2 separate regions of the Homo sapiens genome follow, and region 2 is linked to region 1. The links come from fine-mapping of genetic effects on gene expression. A gene starts in region 1. The other region holds a variant in brackets. All regions are shown on one strand. Distances are from middle to middle. Region 1 holds the start of ELOA (elongin A). Region 2 has its middle 26 kb from the start of RPL11.

The links. PIP is the estimated chance that this variant, and not a neighbour inherited with it, causes the effect.
Region 2: its variant is the best candidate, but not a certain one, in a credible set for the expression of ELOA in whole blood (INTERVAL, PIP 0.87).

What each region holds. Positions count from the first base shown.
Region 1 is chr1:23,741,488-23,745,876 of GRCh38, forward strand. ELOA (elongin A) reads left to right here and starts at 1,984. Exons shown (of 11, transcript NM_003198.3): 1 at 1,984-2,091. The coding sequence starts at 2,017. RefSeq lists silencers at 1,786-2,015, 2,166-2,645.
Region 2 is chr1:23,715,359-23,719,747 of GRCh38, forward strand. No RefSeq gene overlaps it. Among named protein-coding and RNA genes, the nearest start is that of RPL11, 26 kb to the left of the region's middle. The variant A/G (reference allele first, on the strand shown) is at 1,597.

The DNA of each region.
Region 1 (4,389 bases):
CGATCATGGCTCACTGCAGTCTTGATCTCCTGGGCTCAAATGGTTCTCCTAACTCAGTCTCCCAAGTAGCTGGGACCACAGGCACGCACCACCATGCCTGGCTAATTTTAAAATTTTTGTATTTTTTGTAGAGGCTGGGTCTTACTACGTTACCCAGGCTGGTCTCAAACTCCTGGGCTCAAGCAGTCCTCCCGTCTTGACCCCCAAAGTGCTGGGATTACAGGCATGAGCCACTGTGCCCAACCTCATTGTTTCTTTTCATTTTGGTTATTGAGCTCTCTCTGGATAACATCTGCAGAATGTTTCATGTGTCCCGAGTATGTGCCAGGCCAATTACTCAGCAATTCTGCTTCAAGAATCAGTCTGTATTCCATTACACCAGTGGTACATTTTCAAAATGGAAGGAATATAAAATGTAAAAGTATTTGCTACGCAGAGGAGGGAGACACTACTGCTGGGACTAGAATCGAAGTTTTCTCACACCCAGTTCAATGCCTTTTCTACAACATCCCTCAGTTGAGCCTTAGGGTACCAAGTGGATGGTCATTAGTCTTGTATGGACTTTATATCCAATGCTGATTATAAGGTCTAGATGATGCTAGGTGGCAGAGATTCAAAGTTGGACAGGTCGGTTACTGTACTTGATAAATAAACAGCCCAGTGGCAAGACAGATAAATAAACTGACCATTTACACCCTGAAAAGGTGGTCAGTTGCTTAGGGAACTGGGGGAGGGGCGCCAAATGGAGGAGTAGGGACATGGTAGAGAGGGCTTTTCAGCATAGTGAGTGAATGAATGCTCATTTGAAGAAACAACTTGTGTTTAAGATGTTTTTCTTTCTTCCAGAGCTAGAATCTGGAAGAATCTCTGGGCTTTCCTGCTTTGAGGGAGAGATCAGGCTAGGTGCATTGCCAATTTGCTGCTGAAGATCTGATTAGGTTCTGCTTTGATGTGATCAAATGAGATGTAATCAGTGCTGGTACTTTAAGTGAGTTTGCAACTATTTAGTTGCTCTTTTTAGTAGTAGTATTAGTAATGGTAAAACTTAGTGCTTTTAGGATGAGAGTAGACGGCCTGAAGAATAATATCTTGGGCTCTTCTAATCAAGCCATACGGCTCATTGGCAAGTCATCAGAGGAAACATCTATCTATCTATACATTCATGCAATAAGTATTTATTTAGTGCCTATGTGCCAGACACTGTTTGTGGGGAAAACAAGACACATGGGCTATTATTGCCTCATGGAAGGAACTAAGCTGTTTGGATTTTGAAAAATCCCTTTCTCTGGGCCTCAATTCCTCGACCTGTTCAGAAATGTGCGCTCACAATGGTCCTAGACATCTTAGATTCAGGTTCCATTTTCAGTTCTTTCCTGTCCTGCGGCCATCTGCAAGTTAATTTGGTCTCCCTGAACCTCAGTTTCCTCATCTGTAAAATGAAGATCATACAACTCGTTTCATCAGGTTGTACTGAGGCTGGAAAAGATAGTCTAACTACTGACGCATCGTGTGCTCAGCCTAGGGTGGCTGCTACCGCGGGTGCCTGCGGACTCCTAGGACGGGCACCAGCCCGGGACCCCTGACAAGGTGTTGATTAGGGTGTGGCTAAGCCCCAGGCGGGAGAAAGCGTTGGCATTTATAAGGCCAGGGTCTGGCGCGGTGGCCTCATTCCGTCTTGAAGTAGACCCTGGAGAGGTCTTCCAGGCTTGGGCTCAGCACGCGAGCACAGGGAGCGGGGGTGCCGGCGGCGGAGGCGCGTACGGCCCGAGCAGCCCCCAGCCCCCAGCGCGCACACTTGGGCCAGGGGCGCGAGGAGTGCGCGGCCGCCGGGTGGGCGCTGGGGAGCGGGCCCTGGGGGCGGAGCCTGCAGCCCACCGCCCCCCACACACCCCAGCCGAGGCCCGGAAGGGGCCAGGCGCGCTTCCGTCTCCGCCGGGGATGCACGGAGGGCGGAGCTGCGGCCCGAGGACGCGACGCGAGCCCAGTTCCGGCGAGGAGGCCGCGCCAGTGACAGCGATGGCGGCGGAGTCGGCGCTCCAAGTTGTGGAGAAGCTGCAGGCGCGCCTGGCCGCGAACCCGGACCCTAAGAAGGTAAGCGAGGGGGCGGCGCGTAGCGGGATGGGCGTTGGGTCGGTGAGGGCCCCGTAACGGTCGCGGCCCGAGCGTGGCGGGGTTCGGGGGCTGGGACCCTGAGCCAGGCCCCGCGGGGCTGGGGTCGTGAAGTTCGCGGCCATTGACCGCTGCCCGCGCGTTGGGACCCCGTGCGTCGGGCGTCGGGACGCGGGGCCCCGGCCGCTCCCCCTCCCTCACGGGCCCGGGATGGGGGCGCGCCCGGTGCGGACACCGCGTGCCTAGCGCTTCCTCCCAGAGGCGCTCCGTGGCGTCCCGAGCCAGCTGTTTCCTGCGGGAGAGCGTGCCCGGGGCGGGAGGGCGCTGGCCGCCGCCTCGTTGGCCTCCCGGTGCCTGCGCTGGTGCCCGGCTCCCCGCGGAGCGGCGCGGACTCCCCAGCGGGTGCGTGTTCGCTGGGAGGAGAAGACGGGCGCCCGAACGCTGCGGAGCCTGGACTCGCGGTCTGGTCCGCGCCTCTCGGAGACGCGGTTACTACTCTCCGGCTGGATATCAGAGCGTGGACCTTTCGCTTTCTCAGTGAATCCCTTTCAAAACAGAATAAAGCCTCGCGTCACCTAAGCATACTCCTGAAAACTTAGGTTGGAATTGAAAAAGAGGCGGGGGCCCGGGGTTGGAAGTCGCAGCTAGGTTTCCTTTTGGCCATTAATAGGAAGGTAAGAGCTACCGTTTCTCGTTGTTCGAGTGATGGACAACCATTTTTAATTGTAGTTAACTAGTTTTTGTTGTTTATTGTACAAACTGAATATTAAGTTAAACGCGTTCTTGTACCTTTTCATCTTTCTGTCACTCACTTCTCTGGTCTCCAGGAGACAGTCTGGTGGTTGTCAGGATTTTTTTTTTTCTTTTTTTTTTTTGAGGCGAGTCTTGCTCTGGTCGCCCAGGCTGGAGTACAGTGGCGCGATCTCGGCTCACTGCAACCTCCGTCTCCCGGGTTCAGGCAATTGTCTGCCTCAGCCTCCCGAGTAGCTGGTATTGTAGGCGCCCGCCACCACGCCTGGCTAATTTTTGTATTTTTAGTAGAGACAGGGTTTCACCATCTTGGCCAGGCTGGTCTTGAACTCAGTTGTCAGGATTTTTTAAGTGGAAGTACAACGATGAAAAAGCACTTATGTGTTTGGCATTCTCCGTCATCATTCTGGCCGGGGCGGGCAGTTCTAGGAGTTGGAACTCAGTCCTGGTGGAAAAGGAAGTCGTGGAGGGAGGGCTAGGGCCGTGGGGGAACTGCTCTGCTGAGCCTCTTCCTCACCTGCTGCTTCCTAGGACTAACCTGAAAGGCTAAGGTACCAGGCTGAAAGTCAGTGCTCAGAAAACCAATCGTCATTCTTTGGGGTTTTTTTTCTTGAAGAGCCACTTTCTCTTTACCTTGTTCTAGCCTGTTGGAGGTAGGGTTTCTGCAATTCCAAAGGCCGTACACAGCCTCTCACCATCAGACCACTTTTTAAGGCTCTTCGTTCATACCTAGCTCGAAGATTCACTTCCTCAGGAAGCCATTTTAGTTACAAATCTGGGAAAACTTAAAATGCTTTCATTGTGCCATGTTTTCTGTTGCAGCTTCAGTACCGTACCTAGTGGTCAGGCATACTTACAAGTTTCTTTTTACAGTAACCCCTTGTGGACATCTAATAAATGGTCATTATTTTTTAGTACTAGTTTGTTTTCCTGAACACTGTAAGATCTGTGACTGACGTTTGATACCTTAAAGCAGTGCCATATAATAACTACCCACTATTTGTTCTTTATTTCTGTCAGATAAAAATGTTCTATGTAGTGTCTACAGTCATTTTTTTTTTAACTAGAATTTAGATTTGGAAGTAGTTTTTCTATTAGTTGATTTGCATGAAATACAAAATTAGGAAAAGGCTTATTCCACCTCAACCTAGTTGAACTATTAATGATTTTTTTTTTTTTTTGAGGATTTGGGCTCTTTCTAGATAGAAAATCACCCTGAACTTCTAGCTTTGCATTGTGAAGTGAGCATCATGAAGATGAGAAAATGTTGGGAGATCATTTTTGCAAAGGGCATAATAGTCGGCATTCAGATATGAGTTAACTGCAGAGGGAAAATTGCAAGCTGTCATGTTGGCCTTGTTCCTCTCAACCTTCTGGTAACCTAACAAGCTCCTACAGGTTGTATGTGAAATTGCAAGATGATTATATAGCCCTGTTGAATTTACAACCAGATCTTGCTTTCAAACCATTATTAGCCAAGGGTTTGATTCCACACCTGTGTTCATGGATTTTTTGGTACTAGACATTGCT
Region 2 (4,389 bases), 26 kb before region 1:
GGTGGAACTTGATGCTCGCCTTTCCCCCTCTGCATTCAGTTTGTCCTTTCTCTCTCTCAAAGAAGGTACAGTATCATACTGTAGAGGACAAGTGTCTAAAAATCATATGCCTCAAGTAATTATCTTTTTTTAAACAGATAATCAGAGTCTCATTTACTTTATATCGCTTTAAGTCACAGAATGAGGGAATGACAGAGTCAGAATTTGAACCCAAATCTCCTGAATGCTTTGCATTATACCCTACTGCCTTATGCAGGCCGTGTAACCTTAGGTAAATCTTTATGCTTTCCATCTGTTTCCTGCCCGGTTCAAGAGAGATCATGTATGTGACAGTGCCAGGCAAACCCCACCACAGTGTAGACCTGTGAGTTGCTGCCATCATCCATGTGGTCATGTGGTCAGTGTTTGTCAATGTGTCTAACATTTCTTATCTGGGAATTGTAAAGAATTTCTCAGTTTTTTTTTTTTTTTATTATTTTGTTTTTAAGACAGAGTCTTGCTCTGTTGCCCAGGCTGAAGTGCAATGGCACGATCTTGGCTCACTGCAACCTCCACCTCCCAGGTTCAAGTGATTCTCCTGCCTCAGCCTCCCGAGTAGCTGGGACTACAGGCACCCACTACTGCGCCCAGCTAATTTTTGTAGTTTTAGTAGAAATGGGGTTTTGCCATGTTGGCCAGGCTGGTCTCGAACTCCTGACCCCAGGTGATCTGCCCACCTCGGCCTCCCAAAGTGCTAGGATTACAGGCGCGAGCCACTGCGCCGGGCCAGAATCTCTCAGCTTTAATTGTGGACTGAACCTCTATGGAGAGAATGTGTGTATAATGAATTCCTCTGTGCTCCAGGATATATTCCTTTGGTCCTTGTTTTATAAATTTCCCTCATGCTGATGTAAAAAAAAAGATATTATCATGTCTATCAGCTGAGCACACACAGGGGGATTGAGAGGAATGGAGAAAGACAGGAGGAGGAGGAGATAAGGGAGAACTAACATGGCCAGTATGTATCTCCTTTGTTCTAGGTGTTTGACATATTTGAGATCATCTTTACAGTTGTCCTATGAATTATATATAACATTCCTATTTTACAAGGAAAAGAGGGCCTCAGAGTCACCACCAGGAAGTGGTGGAACTTGAATGCTAACCCTGATCCTTCTGATTCACAGTGACCCCTCACACTGTGCTCTGTTGCCCCAAGAGGAGATACGAAGCATAGATCCGTGGGCTCAATTTTGTTTGGTTTGGTTTTTGAGACGGGGTCTTGCTATATTGCCCAGGCTGTTCTCACACTCCTGGGCTCAAGCAATCCTCCCACTCATTCTCCCAAGTAGCTGGGATTGCAGGCATGTGCCACAGTGCCTGGCTCAGTTTTATATGATTCTACCAAATAGCTTCAGATAAGAACATAGGGAGTATGAAACCCCATGTAAAGGCATGAATGTCAGAAAACTTAAGGAAACAAAAACATGGCTTGCATCTGTAGTCTCAGCTACGTGGGAGGCTGAGCCCATGAGTTGAAGACCATAGCATGCTGTGATTGAACCTGTGAATAGCCACTGCGTTCCAGCCAGGCAGCATGGCGAGAGCTCATCTCTGGGC[A/G]CGGTGGCTCGCGCCTGTAATACCAGCACTTTGGGAGGCCGAGGCAGGCAGATCACGAGGGAGTTCGAGACCAGCCTGACCAACATGGTGAAACCTTATCTCTACTGAAAATACAAAAATTAGCCGGGTATGGTGGTGTGCACCTGTAATCCCAGCTACTCAGTCAGGAGGCTGAGGCAGGTGAATCTCTTGAATCCGGGAGGCAGAGGTTGCAGTGAGCCGAGATCACGCCATGGCACTCCAGCCTGGGCGACAGAGTGAGACTCCATCTCGGAAAAAAAAAAAAAAAAGAAAGAAAGAAAAAGAAAGGGAGAAAACCAGGCAGATCTATGGCCAGTCATAGAAAGAAAAAGAAAGGGAGAAAACCAGGCAGATCTATGGCCAGTCAGTCTCTTTGGGACCTCTGGGAGTGAAAATCCCCGTCAGGAATTGTTGTCACTTTTCTTCTGTGACATCTGCTTCAGGCTTCCAGCCTTCACCCAAGTCAGCTAAATTGCCATTGTTTCATTAATTTAACAAATGTTGATTGAAGGGCCAAGCCCATGCTGGACCCATCGATGTATCGCCTTTATTTTAGGCGCTTTGCTCTAGTTCACTTACTTATGGGTTCACCAACTATTTAGTGCCCCCACCAGGGATATAGAGATGGTTTAGTCACAATCTGTGCCTGCAGGGAGCTCACAGTCTAGTGAGGGTACCACACAATGAAACACAGAGGAAGACAGACGTGGCTTCTACCCTCATGGTGCTAGACTACAGTGGAGGAAGTGGGGAGGGAGCATAAACCAATAAAAAGTGGACAAAAAGTAATACATATTAAGTATAGAGTTACCATTTGATCCAGCAATTCCACTTCTGGGCATATTCCCAAAAGAATGGAAAGCCCAGGAACCAATATGTGTACACTGATGTTCATAGCACCCCTATTCGTAATAGCCAAAAGTGGAAACAACCCAAATATCCATCAGCAAATGAATAGATGAACAAAACGTGGTCTGTCCATACAATGAAATATTACTCAGCCTTAAAAAAAAAGGAATGAAATCCTGATACGTGCTACCATTTGGGTGAACCTCGAAAACACTATACTAAGTGAAATAGGCCAATCAGAACAGGACAAATATTCTATGATTCCACTTGTGTGAGGTACCTAGAGTAGTCACAGTCACAGAGATAAAAATAGAACTATGGTTGCCAGGGGCTGGGGGAGGGAAAAATAGGGAGTTATTGTTTATTGGGTGCATAGTTTGAGCATGGGATGGAAAAAGTCCTGGAGATGGATAAGATGGATACTGGTGATGGTTGCAGTGTGGATCTACAGAATGCCACTGACTGAATGGCATAGCTAAATGTTAGATATATGTATTTATTTTACCACAACACAAAAATAATACATTTGAGACTTTGTCTTGAAGAACATGAAATTTAAAATTATGAAAATAAATTCATTTTATATTTAACCAACAAAAGGTAATACAAATAGTAGTCATATAATAGCCATCATGGTCAGTGCTACAGAGAGTCCTATCTGGTGTTGGGAGAGAAGATGGCAGGTAAACCTGCTCAGGTTAGTGGGGTTCTGAAACCGAGAAGGGCTTCACCAGGAGAATGGCATTTCAACTAAGCCCTGAAAGAGAAAGCTTGGTGAGAAGGGGTGGGTGTTTGTGGAAGACAAGACATTCCAGGCAGCAGGAACAGCAAGGCGAAGGCCAGAAGCAGGAGCGCCCCTTTGGTGGAGTTGAGGAATTACAAGGTTTGTATGTGGAACACAGAGTGGGGTGGAGGTTGGGCTTGCAAAGGATTTTAGGCCCCTCCTAGGAGCAGATGGAATCCATCAAAGAGTTTGGGCAAGGGATTTTTATTTTTAATTGGTAAGCCCCTTGATTTGGTTAAGTAGAAAGGAATGGAAAATAAAGTTTATTGAGGGGTTTCTATGTGTCAGCTGCTTTACCTACCATTCCCTTCTTGGGTAGAAGCCCTGTGAGGTCAGAATTACTAGGAGATGAGTTCCTTGAGGACAAGGATGAGGCATTCTCAAATCTCTGATACTAAGTAGGACACTTGGCTCAGATGATGTGCTCAATAATGATCCACATGGTTGATTTTACAGATGAGGCTCAGGGAGGTGAAGCCATTTACCCCAAGTGAGCAGGTGAGGAGGCCGTGCAGCCTAGGAGCTGTGCCAACCCTAAGCCCATACCCCTTTCTAGACCATGCTACACATGTCACAACCCCAGATTTCCCTGCTGTTTTCCAGAGCCTCTTCCCTGGGTCCCTCCTCCCCAGAACACTGGTGTGTGTACCCCTAGGCCCAAGGGGTGGCCAAGGGGCATCTGTCTGTGAGTGTGACTTTGCACTTAGGAGCTGGTGTGACCCCTGGGCTGAACGTGAGGCCCTGTGGTGCAGGACAGAGACTAAGGCAGTGTATTCATTTCCTATTTCTGCTGTAAAAAAATTACCGCAAACTTACTATCTGACATTTATGGAGGCCAGAGGTCCAAAATGGGTCTCACTGGGCTATAATCAAGGTATAGCCATGGCTGTGTCCTTCCTGAGGCTCCAGGGAGAATCTGTTTGCTTGCCTTTTCCAGCTTCTAGAGGCCACCTGTGTTCCTTGGCTGGTGGCCACCTTCAAAGCCAGCAATCCCATCACTCCAGCCTTTGCCTCTGTCATCACATCTTCTCTGACTCTGACTCATGCTTCTCGCTTTCACTTAGAAGCACCCTTGTGATTATTTTGGGCTACCTCAATAATCCAGGATAATCTCCCTATCTTGAGGTCAGCTGATTAGC